Linked DNA regions of Homo sapiens. The protein of the gene in region 1 purifies or fractionates together with the protein of each later gene. This does not show direct contact. Each region holds a gene or a part of one and is shown on either strand. Other genes may lie near its edges.

Region 1 (2,755 bases):
CTGGGCTCAGTGGCTCACGCCTATAATCCCAGCACTTTGGGAAGCCGAGTCAGGTGGATCACCTGAGGTCGGGAGTTCAAGACCAGCCTGGCCAACATGGTGAAATGCTGTCTCTACTAAAAATACAAAAATTAGCTGGGTGTGGTGGCATACACTGTAATCCCAGCTACTCAGGAGACTGAGGCATGAGAATCACTTGAATCCAGGAGGCAGAGCTTGCAGTGAGCCAAGATTGCACCACTGCACTCCAGCCTGGGCAACAGAGTGACCCTGCCTCAAAAAAAAGGCAAAAAAAAAAAAAAAAAGAAGAAGAAGAAGAAAGAAAAAAAAAGGAAAGAAAGAAGGCAGGGAGAAGGGTGGAAGGAATGGCAACTGCCCACAGATAATACATGAAGTGACTAAACTGAATGTGGCTACTCAAGATTTGTCCATGCTGTACCCAAATGAAGCAGGGTCCAGCCTCAGAGCTCTTGCATTTGCTGTCCTCCCTCCAGGAATGTTCCTCCCCCAAATAATTTGCATACCTAATTATTTCCTTAGTTTCCTGCAAGTCACCTTCCTGATGATAAAAATGTCACCTTTTTAGTGAGGCCTTCCTTGACCACATTACTGCCCTTGCTGCATACTTCCTATTCTCTTTCTCTGTTTAATTTTTCTTTTTATTACTCATCACCAACGCACTATGCGTTTTAGTTGTTTATTTTTAATCCCCACTAGAATGTACATTCCATGAAGGCAGAGATTTTTGTGTTTTATTCACTATTGTCGCCCCAGTGCTGAGAACAGTGTCTGGTACAGAGTAGGAGCTTAATAAATGTGATGATTGGAGGGCTGCATAAATAAGCGACCACACCCTGAGAAAAGGAAGGGGCGGTCCAGCCAGACCCCTCTGGGTACTGAGACACCCCGACTGATTCCCTGTCTTGGAGGAAATGTACCGCCTGACCTGGAGGGGACGACAGTGTCAGGACCTTCAGCCAAACTCTGCTCTGTGTTGAGGGGCACACCCCCACCCCTGCCGTCAATCTCTCACCACTTACCATCTTCCACACGAAAAAACCAAAGCATCTCTTCCAGCAGCTCCTGGGGTACCACAGTACCGGCTGGGTCTCCGGGAGCCCCCTCACTGTGCTCCATGCCCCTGCTCCTGGTAGCGTGTGCAACGAGGTCCTTAGACCCCTTAGCCCCAGCAGCCCTCCTGGCCTCCTCGGTTCTGGCCCCTGGGCAGAGAAGCCGTGAAGACCCCTGGAAACAAAGCAGACAGCATGACTGGATATCCCACCCGAGTTTGATCTCCCTCTGTGCCCAAATCCAGATCTCCTCTGGCCCAAAGTTATGGGACAAAAACGACCCGAACGAACCCAGGAGCACGTGGAGCCTGGAGGGGCAGAGACTGGAAGTGGGAGTGACTCAAATATTTATTAAAAGCCATCGCATGTGTGGAGGAGCACTGTTCTGGGAGTGAGGAGGACTGAGCCACTGGCGAGTTCTGGGACCCTTGCAAAGGACATCTCGGGTCTTCGCCTGCCTGTTCAGCGTCCGCACCTGGCTTCTACGAGCCCACAGCGCGCCCACGCGTTGCCATAGCAACTTGTCCCTTGGGTGTCATGCGGTAGCCAATCACAGGCCTGTGTTTCCCCACATGTCAAAGGCTGGGCCTATCACGCCTCTCTCCTGGGGATTGGCACGCCTACGACACAGAGAGGAGAAAAGGGAAAAGTGCCGGAGGGAAAGGCAGCTGCCGGCTCCTGATGCTGAGAGGGCACCCCCTGCCCCGACCCCGAGAGCTTTTTTTTTCTTTTTCTTTTTTTTTTGGACAAGTTAGCAGAATTGGTTTCTGTTATTTGCAAGGGAAGAACTTGAATCCATGCTCTCTGGATAAATCCCTTACTTCGTGTAGGCCTATTTCCATCCCAACTATTAATAATAAACTGAACCTCAGTCAATCTCAAAACAGTCAGACATTTTGACGTCTTCTTGTACTAACTGCATTATTACTACTTAATATAAAATTTTCTAGCATCCATACTTTACAAAACAAAAAGAAATAGGTAAAATTAATTTTGACAACATATATTATTCAGGCCAATATTAAAATTGTTAAGTTATTTCGCTTTTTTTTTTTTTTTTTTGAGACGGAGTCTCACTCTGTCGCCCAGGCTGGAGTGCAGTGGCACGATCTCTGCTCACTGCAACCTCCGCCTCCCAGGTTCAAGCGATTCTCCTGTCTCAGCCTCCTAAGTAGCTGGAATTACAGGCGCATGTCACTACCGCCCCACTAATTTTTGTATTTTTAGTAGAGATGGGGTTTCACCATGTTGGCCAGGCTGGTCTCGAACTCTTGACCTCAGGTGATCCACCCGCCTTGGCCTCCCAAAGTACTGGGATTACAGGAGTGAGCCACCGCGCCTGACCCAATAACACATTTTTTTAAAAGGACACGCATTAAACACATTAAGCTGTGTCTTGGGGAGGAGGAGGAAGGGAGTAGGAATGGAGATAAACGTAACTAAAATAAAACAAGAGAAGTGTTTTGAACAGATCAATTATAAAACATGCCATAGGGCACCAAGAAAAAAAGTGTACAGGGAGGATCGAAGCATTCTCAGGTCCCCTCACACTCTGTCACTGCCTTAGGTGCTCAACAATCTCAGCCCCAAATAGCCTTTGGACACTTAGCCAGGGGCATTCAAAAACAGCTAGATGGCAAACAGCCAGACAGAAAATTGGAGTATCAACAAAAGGACTAGCTTTA
Region 2 (3,732 bases), on another chromosome or scaffold:
TTGATCTCCTGAGAAAAGGATTTATTTATTGATGTAGCTAAAGGATGTTGTTATCAGATAGTTTTATTTATAAAGTAGTTTTAAGGTGAAAAGCTAAGGACATGCTAAGCAGACAGTTTCTCAAACAGAAAGGATTGCATATAATGCCAATTTGTTAGCTAATAATATATTTCTATTTTTAGGTATCCAGAATGCTACCAGGGGGACTTTTAGTTCTTGGAGTATTTATTATTACTACTTTAGAACTGGCAAATGATTTTCAAAATGCCCTGCGTAGAGTAAGTTTGATATATCGAAAATTCTTAATGAAATCAGTTATATGTTATTTTTACTGATTATGAGTATGTGTAATGATTCTAGGCATATTTACATTTGTTTTCCATAATTCTTTTTGTTGGGGTTACATTGAAAAAGCTTTTGTCACTCAATTGCTTGGATATCTTGAGTGTAAAAAATGTTTATATTTTTAAAAACTACACATTTTATTTATTATTTTTTCCATGGGTAATTTTATTCTTTATTTAGTACACTACCCAAAACAGGGCTATCATCAGCCCATATGGCATTTCATACAAATTTGAAAAAGCTATTCTTTCCTCAAGTTAAAAAGTTAAATTATTTACTTCTCAATAATAACCATGACTAATGACAGTAATTCCATGTAAATTATGCAAACAAATAATTCATTGTAAAATATTGAAAAATTCAAATGATTAATTATAATATTAAGAACTCAAAGTCACTTGGATCTAATAATTTGTTGTAAAAAAGGCATCTTTGTGGAAGTAATTCTTTTTGACAGAAAAACTACATATTTTAAAATAATCTTTATTTTAGAGGTAATTTCTGACTATTAGGAAACAAATTATAATGCTTTAAACAGTTTTTCTTATGCAATAGCAGTATTCTGTCACACCTTCCATTTAGTACCTAGTGATTACTGTAACATGAAATTAATAGGTGCTGAAATTCTTTACCTTCTTCTCAATTCTCCGGAGATCCTGAGAGTAAAACATAAACAATCAGATTATTCCTGGACACAGTATCTATCAGAAATCTCCTGTGTTTTTTGCTTAATTGCTGCACCAGAGAATTGGGTAACATAGTGTAAAAGTAAATATGAAGGTCCACATGCTGTTTTCCCTTAAACCCAAACCTAAGGTAGATTCTGTGTAGCCAGCTCTTTTAGCATTCAGGATCCACATGAACTTTTTGAAGGGTATTTCATACCCCAAAAGAGGGGGAACCTTAAAATCTTGAGACATATAAAACCCAACCCCAACAGTATCCCAGAAAAACATTTTTTAGGTAAAAAATATACAGCTGAGAACTTCAGATGTTACAGATTTTTTCAGTCTTGTAACCTGTCCTGTCAGATGTCCCAGCCTCAAGCCTTTGATATTTGCACCTAAGGGAGTAAGGGAAGAAAATGGAGATATTCTCCTCCCTGCTAAATTGTTTAACCCTCTGCCAACTTTTCCATCTTAAATAAATTTACCTTGTTTACAATTGTTCATTCTCTTTGGCATTTTGAAATTTAACCGAAATCTATGCGTATTTAATATTAATAGCATTCATTGTGCAACCTTTTTTGGCTGGTGCTGAATTGAGGGGGTTGAATGTGGGCCCAGTGCTAGAGAGATACAGCCAGGCCCACTTTCCTTGCTTTTGTATCTTTTGTTCCTAAAAAGTATATAAAACTTTAGAAATGCTTTATCTCTGACATTACTGAGTTTCAATTATCTAATTGTTTCCACTGGCTACACTGACAAACACTACAAGAAACAGCCTTATAAAACTTGTCAGTGTCACCCATTATTGTTAAGGACTTTATTCATCATATTACATTAATATTGTGTTTCCGGAAGAATTTCTTTTTATATTATGAAGAAGGTTGTGCCTCCTCTGATGATTGTTTTTAGCTTACAGACCATGTGAATTAGGTTACAGATTAGATTTCTCTCTGCACATTATTGTTAGAAAGCTTAGACCGAAATGTATTACCACCCCTTACATCAAGTATGCATTTTTATAATTCTTATTTCTGACACAAATTTATCTCACTATTCTACTTTAACTTTCAATTTGTTATTACTATATTTTATATGTTGTTATATATTGCCTTAAGTCTTGTGTGACGTTTAAATAAGAAATGCTAAATGGGTGACATGCTTGATTTCTTTAGTTAAAATCACTTATCATTTCTCATTCTAATTAAAGTCTCTGTTCTATAGTTTATATAAATTCTAGTTGCCCCAAATTAATTTTTTGTGTCCAGTTAATCTCTAATGATAGTGAATTAAATTTTTTTATTTAAACCCAATTTTTCTGTAATTTCCTAAAAGGAATTCAAAAATGTTAGTAATTAGCTCCAGTCTTTAATTTGAAGAAAAGAAAAATTAATGGTGGCACACACCTGTAGTCCCAGTTACTTGGGAAGCTGAGGTGAGAGAATCACTTGAGCCCAGGTGTTCAAGGCCAGCTTGAGCAACATAGTGAGACCCCTTCTCCAATAAATAAAGAATCATGGAATTTTAAAGCTAAATGAGAGTTGGGGACATTATAATTGCCTATTTCAACACTCATCTTTTTTTTTCATTTTACATTCAATTAGTGTGTATTTTTCTCTCTTTCAGCTAATGTTTGCTGTGGAAAAGTCTATAAATAGAAAGAGATTGTGGAATTTCACAGAGGAGGAAGTCTCAGAACGAGTGACACTTCACATTTGTGCTTCTACAAAAAAGTATCTTTTGTTCAGTTTATGGTTTAAAAGTACAAAGTACCAAAATAATATTCTTGCAAGGTTTTTTTGCTATTTATTTAAATCATCATTTAAAAAATAGGCATAGTTTTGTAAGATTTTTCTGTAAATAACATGGAATTAGAGCCACCAATAATAATAATAGCAATAATGGTTGTTAATCATGTCCCAAGGTGATAAAAAGCTTGAGATCTGTAATATGAAAGACTCAGGATTCTGAATTTTTTACCAGCTATCTGCCCTGTACATCCAAGCACAGCAGATTCCCTACAGAGATAAATGCCTAACTGATGGCTTAGGCAAAGTAATGTTTTTATTATGTTAAAGTTTTCACCTCCAGTTTCTATAGATAAGGATGTACAATTCAAAGCACAGGTGCACAGAGCTGGATGGTATAGGACATCGGAGAAATTCTTATGTCTTTGGCTAAGATGAAATGACACTAAAAGCCAGTTACACGGCCTCTTACCAGGGCAAGAGTACCTCCCAAGCAAGGGTCATCCTCACCAAAGGAGTGACACGATCCATGGACTTCCAAAGACAGAATTTTAAAAGTGACCATTCCTGCAGAAGCAGGGCTTTTTTTTTTTTTAACAACAACAAAAAAAATCTTTAGTATTTAACTGCAAAGTTTCATATACAAGCCCTTTAATCCAATAAATAGTCTCAGGTTTGACCTCATATAAAACAGTGGTACTTTTTCTTATGGAGAGTGTATATTTGAGAAGAATCTCACGAGTGCTTTGATTCTATTTATTGCAATTAGCGGGATTCATAAAAGGTAGGAAATGATTTTCAAGCACCGCAAGTACTATAGTGATAGCAGTTTGTATGTATGATTATATATACACATATGTATATATATGCACACATGTACATATATGTACGCATATCTTTAAAGTGTTATGATTTTGTAAGAACTTTTGGATGCGTGCATTTTTTAGTTTATTTTTTGATAGTTTATATTCTTT
Region 3 (3,454 bases), on another chromosome or scaffold:
CGTGTTTGGGGTCCACGTCACTCCTGGCTGGGAAGCAGGCATCGAGCGACACTTGACTCCGGTGACCCCCATGCTCTGGACCTCCACCTCCTGTGTGCGCTTTGTGGGCAGTTGTCGGGAGGGGACCCCCCATGCTGTGGACCTCCGCCTCCTGTGTGCGCTTTGTGGGTGATTGTCGGGAGGGGAGTGGTGGTGACGCCGCTGCTCCTGCCTGGAGGGAGTGCCGTGGGGGCTGGTGAGGGTCCACACTGGGCGGAGTTAGGCTCCAATTCCTCCTCGGCTTCCTGCTGTTAGGCCTCGTGGAGTCGCGTCCCTGCCGGTGCTTGCCCTTGGCCCATGACGGTAACCGCCCAGCACTCTGTCCCCGGGGCCCTGAACTCCGGAAACCCCACTGGGTAGGCTGTGCGTCCCGCCTGGGAGGATGGGGTGTGGGACGCGTGGGTGGGGGACGGTCCCCGCAGTGGGGAGGGGAGGTGCCGCGCCTGGCCTCATGGGCACTGCAGCCACCCTGGGTGCAGCTCCTCTGCTTTGGGACCTTGGGAGGCATTGGTCCCACCCCCACTGCTAGTTCATCTCTTAAAGTGAGGGTGCAGCTCCAGGGCCCGAGGTTTCCCCAACCAGGAAGGATGTCCTGGACCCGGGCTCAGGTCTCCTGACCCAGCACGTGGCTGCCCAGAGCCCTGGCACCAGGGTGCACCTAGAGGAGGGGCCCCACGCTGATGGCTTCTGCAAGGATGGGGACCGGGGACAGCTCTGGGCAGTCAGTGAGGGAGCTGCTGCTCAGGGGTGGACACAGGGAGGGGGTCGGCTGGCCAGGGGGGCAGAGCTTCTGCATCGGGGCAAGGCTGGCCCAGGAGAGGCCGTGGGGAGATGTCGTCAGCCCCGGCAGAGCCCCTGCAATGAATGGAGCTGTGGCTTTGAGCGGGCAGAGGGGACGGGAGATGCGAGGGGCTGTCATCTGCCAGTGTGAGCAGGAAGGGATGGGGACTGATTCCTTCCCCAGATCAGCGCAGAGCTAGGGTTAAAAGAAAGCGGGTGCTGAGGGCTATTTTGGGCAGACACAAAATGTCTGTCATTCATATTTTAAGAGATCCATGAATAAAAGATGAAGTCTCCTGGCCCGAGGCTAAGTGTAGGGCTGGTCTGAGGACTCTGCGTCTCTGCCTTCCCGCCGTCGTCTGGGTCCCATCTCACTGTGTGGACGGCAGATCTGAGAAGGCGCCTGGTGTGGCCTTGCGGGTTCTCTGTTCCTTTTAAGGCCCAGGTCGCTGTCCCATGTGAACATTCGGCCAGGTGGGCGGCTGCCTTGGCCGGCTGACCACAAGGAGTGCAGGCGAGCTCCCGAAGATTCCCACGGTTAACTGAGGGTGAGAAGCTCCGCGGGCAGCCGGAGCCTGCCTGGGGTGGACGTCAGAGATGAGAGTGTCCTGGCCCGCCCGTGCCCTTAGTCAAGGCCCAGCTTGGTGGTTTGGAGATCCCAGGACTAAAGGAAATAGCCAGCAGCACTCAGGAAACCTCCTCAGTTCCTCCACCTGTCCATGGGGGACTGCAGTGCTCGTTGGCACCCCCCGCAGGTGCAGGCAGGGCAGGATCTACGGTGGGTCCACGCCCCTGTCCCCAAGTTCAGTCATCAGGAGGGCAGGTGCAGCTTCCCACTGTAGCACAGCGTGCGCCTTCTTCTAAAGAGAGGACCTGGGGACATGTAGGCTTGGGTGGGTGACTCAGCCTTCCTGGGAAGTGGTGTGTACTGCGGGAGTGGGACTGGCTGTGCCTGCCAGGGTCCTTTGGCCCGAAGTGTGAGGTGTCTGCGCAGCCTGCCCTGGCCAGGCAGGTGGGGTGGAGACGCTGTATATCGTGAGACGTGTTCCTGGCTGACCACTCCCTCCATGTCCCATGGAGCCAGGAGGAGCTGCAGGAGTCACCAGATTCCACACGGAGCAGCTTGGGGCCCGCGGTCACAGGACGGTCAGGCAGTTGCACTGCTTGTCCGGGGCGGTCACAGGACGGTCAGGCAGTTGCACTGCTTGTCCAGGTCTCGCCTCCATGGCCACAGTGCAGCTTGGAACTTGTGGTTCTGCAGTGGTTTGGTCACCTCTGGCCACCACGACGTCTGCTCTAAGAAGGGAGGAGCCAGCCTCTGCCCACGGGAAGGTGTTTAGGGGATGCTGGATGCTGACTCACGTGGCTTCTCTGTGTCCACAGCAGGGAGAGCAACAAGCCCCGGCCCTCAGAGCTCAGCCGGATGAGCGCAGCCCAGAGACAGCAGCTTCTGTGAGTGCACCTGCCCACCTCCTCAGGGGTTCAGCTCCTGAGTGCCCTCACCCTGCCCACCCTCTCCAGGGGTTCAGCTCCTATGTGCCCTCACCCCGCCCACCCTCTCCAGGGGTTCAGCTCCTGAGTGCCCTCACCCCGCCCACCCTCTCCAGGGGTTCAGCTCCTATGTGCCCTCACCCCGCCCACCCTCTCCAGGGGTTCAGCTCCTGAGTGCCCTCACCCCGCCCACCCTCTCCAGGGATTCAGCTCCTGAGTGCCCTCACCCCGCCCACCCTCTCCAGGGGTTCAGCTCCTATGTGCCCTCGCCCCGCCCACCCTCTCCAGGGATTCAGCTCCTGAGTGCCCTCACCCCGCCCACCCTCTCCAGGGGTTCAGCTCCTATGTGCCCTCGCCCCGCCCACCCTCTCCAGGGGTTCAGCTCCTGTGTGCCCCCACCCCGCCCTCTCCAGGGGTCCTGAGTGCCTCCAGCCTGCCCTCCCAGGGGTTCAGCGGCTGAGAGCCCCGCCCGTGCCTCTAGTCCCCTCCACGCTGCTCCGCTGGCTCCTGCCTGTCTGCTCCAGGGGGGCTTTTCAGTGCAGTCAGGTCCTGTGGCCCTGGGTCAAGTCCCGCCTCCCAGGAAGGCTTCCAAGGGGAGTCATGGATCTAAAATGATGGGTGGACGCAGCCCCATCTCCGCCCCTCCCCTCCGCTGGCTGGTTGAAATCTGGATGATACGTTTGGTTCTGTGACTGGGCACTGCGGCCCCCAGTTAGCAGGGCTAGGACACTGATTTGCAGAAATTTGTACTCAGTTGTCCTCTTGGGTACAAAAATCTCCAGACCACGCACGCTCTCTTGCCTCTTTGCAGACTCAGCTCCAGTTTCCACTGAGAGAGCCACATTTTACGCCCTTGTAAGATGGTTTTAGTTAGCTGCTGGGATGATTTTTCCTGTGGTTTGAAATGGCTTTACTCAGGTGTTTATCAGTGGGAGCGTTTTGTGTCAGTTCTACCGAGGCCCATTGTGCCTTTCCAGTTGAGAGTCTGAAGTCTGTTTTGTGAGTTCGATTATGCTTAGAAGCTGCTGTCTGTTTTGTGAGTACAGTTATGTTGGGAAGCTGGTGTCGAATGGTAGCTCCAAAGATTTCTTTATTGTCTCGGCCCTTCTTCAGGGGCACCAATTATGCACTTACTGGATCTCTC

The links.
Region 2: the proteins of SLC51B (region 1) and ODR4 purify together in Homo sapiens (affinity purification with mass spectrometry; one large-scale study listed by BioGRID and IntAct). This does not show direct contact.
Region 3: the proteins of SLC51B (region 1) and SLX9 purify together in Homo sapiens (affinity purification with mass spectrometry; one large-scale study listed by BioGRID and IntAct). This does not show direct contact.

What each region holds. Positions count from the first base shown.
Region 1 is NC_000015.10:65,048,387-65,051,141, reverse strand, and holds part of SLC51B (organic solute transporter subunit beta), read right to left. Parts: intron 1,955-2,755; exon of another isoform or gene 1,246-1,954; 5' UTR 1,138-1,245; coding exon 1,041-1,137; exon of another isoform or gene 1-1,040.
Region 2 is NC_000001.11:186,385,806-186,389,537, forward strand, and holds part of ODR4 (protein odr-4 homolog), read left to right. Parts: intron 1-182; coding exon 183-278; intron 279-2,636; coding exon 2,637-2,743; intron 2,744-3,732. UniProt on the Homo sapiens protein: May play a role in the trafficking of a subset of G-protein coupled receptors.
Region 3 is NC_000021.9:44,970,995-44,974,448, forward strand, and holds part of SLX9 (ribosome biogenesis protein SLX9 homolog), read left to right. Parts: intron 1-2,202; coding exon 2,203-2,271; intron 2,272-3,454. UniProt on the Homo sapiens protein: May be involved in ribosome biogenesis.